2 linked regions of the Homo sapiens genome follow. The protein of the gene in region 1 purifies or fractionates together with the protein of each later gene. This does not show direct contact. Each region holds a gene or a part of one and is shown on either strand. Other genes may lie near its edges.

Region 1 (5,141 bases):
TCACCCCCAAATTATACAGCTCAATCAAGTGTTGCTAGGTCTGGTAATGACAGAAGAAAATCTGTTTAACCTCTGCCCTTAAGACCTGTTCATGTGTGTAAAGGTTTGTTTACACCATTAACATATAAATGGCTCCAGAGTAGATTCATATATTCATGGATGTTGAAGAATGATTTCACTGTTCCTGGGAGAATTGACAGACATAAAAACACAAGCCCACAACCGTATTCTTTAAATTATTAAAGGGTTTACAATGTTTGTTCCTTTGCTAATGAATTTGTTCATTTAATGAAAGGGGCTTACTCTACTGTATTCATGTATGCCCAACTCTGTTCTAAAGCCTGAGATTGACTGATGAATAGGAGATGTATCTTGCACACACAGATCAAAATTTAATGGGGAACAAGTGAAAATGTTTAATTCTTGAAAAAGTCACTTAAATTCCCAAAATGATATAAGTATCCCCAGCTCATGTACTATTTTTTGAGTAGTTTTTGTTACCTTGTTTTTTAAACTATTAACTAAAGTTTAGACCTTATTTGGACACCACCAGCTTATCTTTTATTTATTTATTTATTTATTTATTTATTCATTTATTTATTTTGAGATGGAATTTCACTCGTTTTTGCCCAGGCTGGAGTGCAATGGCACAATCTCGGCTCACTGCAACCTCTGCCTCCATGGTTCAAGAGATTCTCCTGCCTCAGCCTCCTGAGTAACTGGGTTACAGGCATGCACCACCACGCCCGGCTAATTTTGTATTTTTAGTAGAGACGGGGTTTCACCATGTTGGCCAGGCTGGTCTTGAACTCCTGACCTCAGGTGATCCACCCGCCTCGGCCTCCCAAAGTGCTGGGATTACAGGCGCGAGGCACCACGCCCGCTATTATTTTCTCCTTTCTGTTCCAGGATCCAGTCCAGGGTTCCACATTACATTTAGTTGCCCTGTCTCCTAAGTCTCCTCTGATCTGTGACATTTGCTCAGTATTTACCTATTTTTCATGAGCTCAACAGTCTTGAGGAGTACTGGGCTGAGATCTTTTCTGTAGAATGTCCTCAGTCTGGGCTTGTCTGATGTTTTTCTAATGGTTACACTGGAATTATGGGTTTGGGGAAAGAATACCACAGAGGTGAATTGCTCTTCACATCACATATTATGGGGTGTAAGTCAACCACATGATATCACTGATATTAAGTTTTACCACTTGGTTAAGACAGTGGCTACTAGGTTTCTTTTCTATAAAGTTATGACGGTTTTCTATACTCTAAATTTTGGAAATGAGTTACTAAGTCTAGCTCACCTTTAAGCAGGAGAGGATTAAATTCTACCTGCTAGAGGGAAGGGTAACTATAACTCCAATTATGATTTGGAATATTTTTGTAAAGATTTGTCTCTTCTCCCTCATTTTTTTACACAAGTGAAATTTATTGTCATTGATATCCATGTGGATTCATGGATATTCATTTTATACTTTGTTTTATAAGCCAATCATTCAATACTGCATTATTTTGTTGCTCAAATCATTCCGGCTTTGGCCACTGGAAGTTAATTCATTTTTAATTCTAAAATATCAGTTATAGGGGATTCCAGGCCAACAGTCTTAACCAACATTCTTAAACAGTAGCTCATCTAGAATAATCTGTAATATCTAACCTAATAGTCCTTTCCTGCTTAACTATACTGGAGTTAACATTAATCCTTATATCTGAACAGGTGTTGTGTCATGAATTTATCTCTTTTCCTCTGATATCGATGAAAACTACAACCTATGTGAGCAAGCCAGGTTGTCCAATGGTCAACCTGTGAGGCTTAGCTTTGGCAAGGTGATTTGCTGCACTCTAATAATCTATGGAGCAATGCAAAAGAAATACACGATTATCTTTTTTTTTGATGCAGCGAAGCAAAGTTTTACCTAGAAGTCAAGTCATGACCAAGAGGTTCATAAGACTAATAAAAATGGACAGGAGGTATTTGTACGCTGATATTTCTTCCATAGTACACTTGGAAACTTTTATAAACATATATATTTTCAGGTAAGCCTGTATGCTTGTTATATTTAGTATTTTGCATATGGCCCATTTCCCTCTCCCCTCGGTGGATACCTGCATTATTAATAGGTTATCAACATTAACATTTTCCAAAGCTTGCAGAATACCAATTTGTGAGGAGAAGGTCACCAAATTCTGCTATGATTTAGCCATACCAAAGTGATCACTCACAGTACCAGAAACTTTGTTTTTTCTCTACATGAAGCCAAGACAATTGCCCTCCAACACAGTGGGTCTTCAAGTACAAAGACTAAATTAAAATCTGCTTACAAAGTTTATTTTTAAAGTAATTTAAAACACAGTGTAACCATACATTAAAAATATTGTGGCAATTTAGATTAGGAATAAACATGAGGTTATTTACATGTTGGCATATGTATGTGTGTATATATACACAAAGTGCAGATAAATACAGAACACTACAAAATAAACAAAAAATTCAATGATAATTTATGGACAATCACTTTTATATTTATTACTTAATTTGTCATGTTAATGACTGCAAAGAAGCTCCTAGTACTGAAATATAATATCTTAACATCCGACTTTTATATAAACTACAGTACCTCAAATTTTAACAGTATATAAATAGGGTTCTGAATTAAAAACCCAGGTGTCTTCCCTGCCAAATTCCCTATTTGTTAAGGTTTCAGCTCAGAAATCAAGAAGGACTCTGAAAATCCCAACCTTTGATATGTGGTGGTATATTGGATTTTAAGCATCAATCATGTGCAGACAGTGTTCTTAGACCAGTTCCTGTGGGGATCGTTCTCTGCAAAAAGGAGGCAGTTGAGGGTACACGGGCAGATATAAAGCCTCAAAAATGCTGCCATATAGAGATTAAAAGTGTGCATTTTATATATATATATGTATATGCTGCCATATAGAGATTAAAGGTGTGCATTTTTATATAAAATGCATCTTTATATAAAATGCACATTTTTAATTTATAAGACTGAGTAAATTCAAGGCAAAATTGAGTTGTTGTCAACTCTGGATGCAAAAACACCATGGGAAACACTCATGAAAGATGGCAGATGGTCCAAAGGGGAGAAAGGGGTTATCCTACTGAGGAGGTTTTGACACCTTCAGCCCCTGCCTCCTCCAACACTTAAGTTTCCCAAATAGCCGTGTACACAGGCATCTTGAATGGTGGAGAATATTTATGATGGCAGTAAATGAAAATGGTCTCTGGTTTTTGGGACTCTTCAGTAAGCACACAGACTCCATTTCTCCATAGAGCACCAAGAAAAATCCACACTGAACTTGGCATCTCTCTCATGAGTGCCAAGGGGAAAAGGAATGATGGGCTGGGCCCCCTAAACCACAGACACCTTGTAATCATTGGTCTAGGACATGCAGATCAATTTTCTGCCAATGGCTTACTGTGAATGTTGTCAACATTCTTATGTAAGATTCTTTATTTAAAACAGTGAGGGCAGCTGCCCTCAAAAAATAAAAAATCCAATTTATTGATTTGATCCTCTAAAAGTCCACATCATTCATAAACCTGCATTTTCCCAACGTTATTACCAAGTGGAACTGGCACATTTTGAAGCAGGGGGATAACGGTGACAATGAGGGATACAGTGAATGTGTTCAGGAAATTGAGACCAGTTGATGAATACTCGATATTACATCTGCGAATCAACAGGAGACAGGCAGGACACAGAATGTTCAGAAAACTATCTTTGTTTCTTAAAAGTGTCTTGATTTTGGAAGGTAACAAAAAAGGGTAGGAGGCAAAGTTAAATAGCAATGTGTACCCTAAGGGGAAACCTTTAGTCAAGGGGAAAGTAACTTCTGGACAATAGTCAAGCCTGTGTTCTTTTTCGTGACCTGACCAGGAGATGTGATTTCCGGGTCCTACGCAGTGATGTGAGGTCATGCTAACAGCTGTGAGTTACAAATGTATCATAAAAGCAAAGAACAAAATCTGTTCCCTAAATTGGTCTGCCTCTGACTTTAGTCAAAGTATAAGTCTAGTTGGGGTTCTAAATGCTAAAGAAGGCATCCTGAATACATGATTTAAGGTATCACTACAATTTGAAATTGCTTGAGGCAAAGCTCTGAGGGACTCTTCTAAACTGAAACCACATGAATGATACCCTTTTCAACACAGACCAGAAGAACGGTGCTAGGAGTGAGAAGGTGAGCAGGGTACACTGGATGATAGTGAGAAATCTGTTTGCCTCACAACATAGTGAATTTTTATGAAGGATGCCACATTATATAAAGCTAATTATCATCGAATAATAATAAAAGTCATATGTATCTTTATTTTTCCTACTTGGAAACCTAGATAATTTGGGGTTTTAATACATTTTTTTTCCTTCACTATCTCTGAAAAGAGTCAGCAGACAAATCATTGTTGAGAAACCTGGTTGTGTTCATGCAAGTTACAAAGCACAGGGAACCCATGCAACAAGCAAAACCACTCACATCAAACAAGGAGAAACCCACTTCCTCATACTTCGTGAATGTTACAGGAATACACAGATGATTTTACTGTTCAGACATTTACACATAACACAACAGAAAAATCCTTCAGTTGACTAGTTTCCATAAACTTGGTAGCATTACGGCAAAACAAGAGAGTCATCTGTGAAACACACAAATGTTTTGTACTGAGGGATATTTTCACATAACTCAGGAGATAAGGAACTTAAATTTAGACCCCCTCAATCTCATCATCATACTGATTATACCGTAAGCAGTTATTAGGGTGCAGAGGTTGCGTGTTTTGAAGATATGGATGTGGCAATTCTAATGTATCTTCACATTGTTCCTGAAAAGCTAAGGTTTTGTTATTGAACTACTATTAAAAGTTGAATGTGATCCTCTTTCAATGTCTGGCATTGCCTTCCTGTGGAATTAACATTCTGTGTGATTTAGAGTACATGTCCTGACTTTCTCAGTGCTCATAAATACCTTATCTGTAGGAAACTTACTTTAAGGGAAAAGCAGCTTTAGCCCGTCTCCAGTATATGGCCATGACTTGCTTACATTGTAATCCATTATGAAGGAAAAAGAGCCATCCTCACAAATCTAGAAGATTAAAAGTTCAAGCACAAGCACAACTTGAATCAGTG
Region 2 (5,487 bases), on another chromosome or scaffold:
TTTTCTTTTTAACAGAAAAATCCAAACTTATTACAGAGAATTTAGGAATATAGAAAAATTCAAAGAAGAAAATGAAAATTACTCATAATACCAACACTAAAAAATTTAATATTTCTTTTAATCTTTTATGCATATGTGTATCTTTTAGCAGAAGTGAAATATTAAATGTACAGTTTTGTACATAGTCTTTTAAAAACTAAATGATTTTAACTATTGTTTGAAAATAAAATTTTTATTGGCTGTACAATATTCCTGAATGTTTACATACCAAAATTTAAATGACTCTCCCATTGTTAAGACTGTTTTCAATTTTTTTGCATTTTTATACCACTACGATGAACATCTCTGTACATCACTCATTGGTGAGATTTTAAAATTGTTTACCTTAGGCTGGATTCCTAAAAAAGGTAAATACTTAAAAAGTGCAAGACCTTTTCCAGAAAGTTACATTTCTACCAGCAATGTATGAGGCCTATTTTGTTGCATCCTCACCATGATTGATATTCTCATTTAAAAATCATCTGCTAATTTCATAGGAGAAAAATGATATCTACTTTTAATCTGCATGTCTTTGATGATTGGTGAGTTTATATTTTTATGATCTTATCAGTCACCTGTATTTCCTCTGAATTATTTGTTCACATCCTCAGCCTATTTTGCTATATATATGAGCTTTCCTTAGCAACTTTTATGAGCTACGGATATGTTGAGAATATTAATTCCTTATTTATAATATTTGTTGCAATATTCATACCTTCCCCAATCAATTTTTTCATTTATTATTATGATTTTTGCTTTGTGATTTTTTCCCATTGCTTGTATGTTTAGAAAATCTTTCCCTTGTTTCAAGGTCAAGTATATTTCCACCTAGTTTTTAAAAACTCATTTATTCTTTGTTTTTTCTGCCTTCAACTCTTCATCTGGAATTTCTTTATATGTGGCATGAGATGAGTTTCTAATTTTTTTTCTCCAGTTATTTAGCTATTCCAAAGCCTTTTACTGACTAATCGTTACCTTTCCCATCTATCTCTGATGCCACCTTTACTTTTTTTCGTATTTTTTTCGGTACTGTACTCCAGGCCATCATTCTAGTCCACTGACTTGACAGTAATTTTTCACTTGTCCCACCTGGCTCAAATTACTGTAACTTTACAATATATGACATTAGTTTAAATGACAAATATTTGGCTAAAGTATACACAGCCCATAAAACAGGCTACGTCCATAGCACTAGCACCTTTCCTATCATTCACTGCTATGAACAACAATCTGCAAGGCTCAGAGCCATGCAGGAGGGTCAGTCCCCTGGCAATAGAAAGAGGGTTGGGGCTAAAAGGAGGTGTGTAAGTTTCAAAGGACACTAATCTGGCCTATAACCTGAAAAAGTTAAATGAATCTACAGCAAGTTAAATCCTGGTATAAAACATACCAAGGGATTGTCAACATTTCTGGTTTGTATTAGAATCTGGCTACATTAATATGACTTGAAATGAGCTGGACAAGATTAGAACTTCAAATCTTTTTGTCACATAGAGATTTTTCAGATGCAATGAGATTTGATCTATATTAAAAGGCATCATCTCTACACTGCAACACAGAGCACAAGTTTAGCATAAAAGTGGAATTCAAATACAAGGGAAGTCTTTTGTTCCCCCCTTACCTGGACTTTTAGTTCTAGTTCTCTGATTTGGTCTTCTTTCACCTTCATGTCCATCGTGAGCTTCTTGCCCTCTGCTTCTAGTTCTCTGATCCGATTCCGTAAGGTTTCGGTGCATTCTCCCCTTTTGAAAAAGAAGAGAAGGAAATAAAGTGATTTAAAAGACTATAGGTTGGGGCTGGGCCCTGTGACTCAGGCCTGTAATCCCAGCACTTTGGGAGGCCGAGGCAGGCAGATTATTTGAGGTCAGGGGTTCGAGACCAACCTGACCAGCATGGTGAAACCCCGTCTCTACTAAAAATACAAAAAAAATTGGCTGGGCATGGTGGTACATGCCTGTAGTCCCAGCTACTGGGGAGGCTGAGGCAGAAGAATTGCTTGAACCCAGGAGGTGGAGGTTGCAGCGAGTCCAGATCGTGCCACTGCACTCCAGCTTGGGCGTCCGAGTGAGACTCCATCTCAAAAACAAATAAATAAATAAATAAATAAAATTTTAAAAAAGACTATAGGTTGGCCGAGTGCAGTGGCTCACGCCTGTAATCACAGCAATTTGGGAGGCCAAGGCAGGTGGATCACTTGAGGTCAGGAGTTCAAGACCAGCCTGGCCAACACAGTGAAACCCTCTCTCTACAAAAATTAGCTGGGTGTAGTGGCACACATCTGTAATCCCAGCTACTCGGGAGGCCGAGGCAGGAGAATTGCTTGTACCTGGGAGGCAGAGGCTGCACTGAGCTGAGATGGTGTCACAGCACGTTAGCCTGGGTGACAAAGTGAGACTCTGTCTCAAAAAAAAGAAAAAAAAAAGACTATAGGTTTACTTGTATTGTGGGATTTATATTTCTTTTAATTTCTTTTATACTCCAGGGTCTGTCAGGTTTTAGCTTTTGGCTCAGTCTGCTCAGTTCTCTGTGTCCTTTGATAATTTCAATAATACTCTAAAATAACTGGGCTGGGCATGGTGGCTCATGCCCGTAATCCCAGCACTCCCAAGGCCAAGGTGGGAGGACTGCTTGAGCCCAGAGTCTGAGATCAGCCTGGGCAACACAGAGAGACCCTGTCTCTACAAAAAATTTAAAAAATAGCTGGGCATAGTAGCACATGCCTGTAGTCCCAGCTACTCAGGAGGCTGAGGCAAGAGGACAACTTGAGCCCAGGAGTTTCAGGTTATAGTAAGCTATGACTGCACCATTGCACTCCAGTCTGGGTGACAGAATGATATCCTGTCTCAAAATACATACATATATACAATAATTATTACTGAGTGTCTAGATGAGCCAGACACTAAGGTACTTTACCCATACTACCTTCTTCAATCCTTATAACAACCTAGGGTATATTTATCCCATTTTCCAGATAAGAAAACTGAGGCTACATAGATAAAATACTAGTTCAAGGTTACCTAGCTTTTAGGTCTTAGAATAGGGATAAGAACTGAGATTTTCTGGCTTCCCAATCCAGCAAACTTCCCACCAGGCCATGAGACTTGAGACAATACACACAAAGCCAGATAGAACTGAACATGTACTATGTCCAGCAGGGGGCGGTGAACTAGAAAAAAATTTTCCCCCCACTTTTGAGGGGCTACGCATTGGGACTTTTGTCTTTCTTGTCATAAAGTTGCCACAAGACTGGAGTAAACAGAAAAATAAGGGCACACTGTTGAGCTGCTTCTCAGGGCTATCATAAGGTTGAGCTAAAAGAGATGATGGCAATGGCCAGTCCAAAGCTGGTACTGTCTAGGTTCCAGAAACAGCCCAATGAAGAAAGTAGGTGTTCTCTGCCTACCAAAACGGAAGGTCCAGTCAGAGATTTATGCCCTGAGATTTACTGAATAAATTATGGCAGGCCTGGTGTGGTGGCTCACGCCTGTAATCCCAGCACTTTGGGAGGTCAAGGTGGGCAGATCACCTGAGGTCAGGAGTTCGAGACCAGCCTGCCAAGATGGTGAAACCTCGTCTCTACTAAAAATACAAAAAGTTGCTGGGCACGGTGGCAGGAGCCTGTAATCCCAGCTACTTGGGAGGCTGAGGCAGGAGAATCGCTTGAACCTGGGTGGCAAAGGCTGCAGTGAGCTGAGATCGCGCCACTGCACTCCAGCCTGGGTGACAGAGTTAGACTCCGTCTCAAAAAGAAGGAAAAAAAGAATAAGTTATGAAAAACAAGGACTATCCAGGGATAAGATAAATAAGCTTAACTGGAAGCAAAAGGGATTTGGGGTAGACACTGAAATCAACTTACTGATTCTCAGGCATGGGAGACACTAAGCAATATCGTTAAGGAACTGCTATGTCCTCCTGAGTGGAATTTTTCAGAAAGGGCAGGTGCTGTATGAATTGAGGAGAGAGGAGAGCAGTCATCACTAGATGACTGTTCAAGAACATCTCCTGCAAGTTTAAGTGCTTCAGAATGCAAATACATCTTCAAACAAACAAACAATCCCACATTGTAGGCAGGCTAGTCAAGGGCCTTGTAAGTCTGTATAGATGCTGATGGGCCAAGCCAGCTCAGCCATCTGCTGGGGGGAGGCAGGATCACACAGGAGAGAGTTCTCACTTGCTGTTATTTCCTAAAAGGTGAAATGATTCACCAATTATTCTGCAAATGCCAGAACCCACAAAGAAGGCTATCAACATGCCAAAAGTTAAATTACTTAACTTTAATTACGACAAAGCAAAATTCAAGGAAAAATTACAGTTGAATTATACCACGTAGATACAAATTAGGATGGAATTTAAAAGTGAAATAAATAATAATTTACCCTCGCTCTATATCTGCAAACACCTAACTGATTCCCACATGCAGAGGGACTTCACTAGTCAAGAAAACAAAGGAAAAAGTGATAAGTGAAGTAGAAGCAAAAAGAAAAAAAAAGCTCTTAACTATCTAATAGTTTTTGGAATACTTGCACACAGGGGTACTTTCCAGTGGTATAGGAGGTAGTCCCCAATTTTCATTATGCCATAAATGTAATTCCATCTAGTAGAGACTTATGTTTCACTTTTTTTTTCCATTTCATTTGACAGTTTGCTGATATCCATTTGAGCAGCCAGTACACAGTGCTTGGGCAACCAAGATTTTATCTTTCTTCCATTTTAAGATAAAAACTTCAGAAACACATATACCTAAGAGTGGAGAGTAATGATAGCTCTCTAAAGGGAACGAACTTCCAGATAGAATCTCTCAATGCATTTAGTAATCATCAGTCTGACAAAAAGTGACTGGAAACCTTTTTATGAGCAGTACTTTGCCTCCCAGGTATGGGAAACATGGTGATTCCCTCATCCCACTTTATAGATGAGGTCACTGAGGGATAAAGCTGTTATAAGATAGTGCAAGCTTGCACACATGGAGTTTAAACCAGTTAATAAAACAGTACTTAAAAGCAATCCATCCGTGCATGATTGCTGTACGTCCAATCCTGCCCAAGGCACCAAATTCCCATGTCTTTGTTGGTAAAGGAAAGCCAACCTTGGATTAAACACTCAGGTGACATGGACATACCTAGATGCAGCAGCAAACGCAACAGCCCGGGCAGCAGTGGCTTCTTCTAACTTCTTCCTCTTTTTCTCTTCCATTAACTGTTTCTCTACAAAACTTCGGGCTTCCTGCTCAGCTTTTAGCTTTTTCTCCAACTGGCTGATATTCTGCTTGTCTTTTTGCTTCATTTGCACAGCATTATGTAACCTATATGGAAATGATTGTCATATAAAGTCTTAAAATTACAAATGCCCACTATAAACCCTTGAGAAACATCTCTTTATCACCTTAAGGCCAATTAAACAGGAGGTTTGAACAGCAAATCAAAAATGTCAATGCCCAGAATGCCTGAG

Evidence for each region. The genes of interacting proteins can lie anywhere in the genome.
Region 2: the proteins of ARHGAP42 (region 1) and MACO1 purify together in Homo sapiens (affinity purification with mass spectrometry; one large-scale study listed by BioGRID and IntAct). This does not show direct contact.

Annotation. Positions count from the first base shown.
Region 1 is NC_000011.10:100,991,105-100,996,245, reverse strand, and holds the end of ARHGAP42 (rho GTPase-activating protein 42), read right to left. Parts: 3' UTR 2,305-5,141; downstream 1-2,304. UniProt on the Homo sapiens protein: May influence blood pressure by functioning as a GTPase-activating protein for RHOA in vascular smooth muscle.
Region 2 is NC_000001.11:25,485,467-25,490,953, reverse strand, and holds part of MACO1 (macoilin), read right to left. Parts: intron 5,342-5,487; coding exon 5,159-5,341; intron 1,782-5,158; coding exon 1,661-1,781; intron 1-1,660. UniProt on the Homo sapiens protein: Plays a role in the regulation of neuronal activity.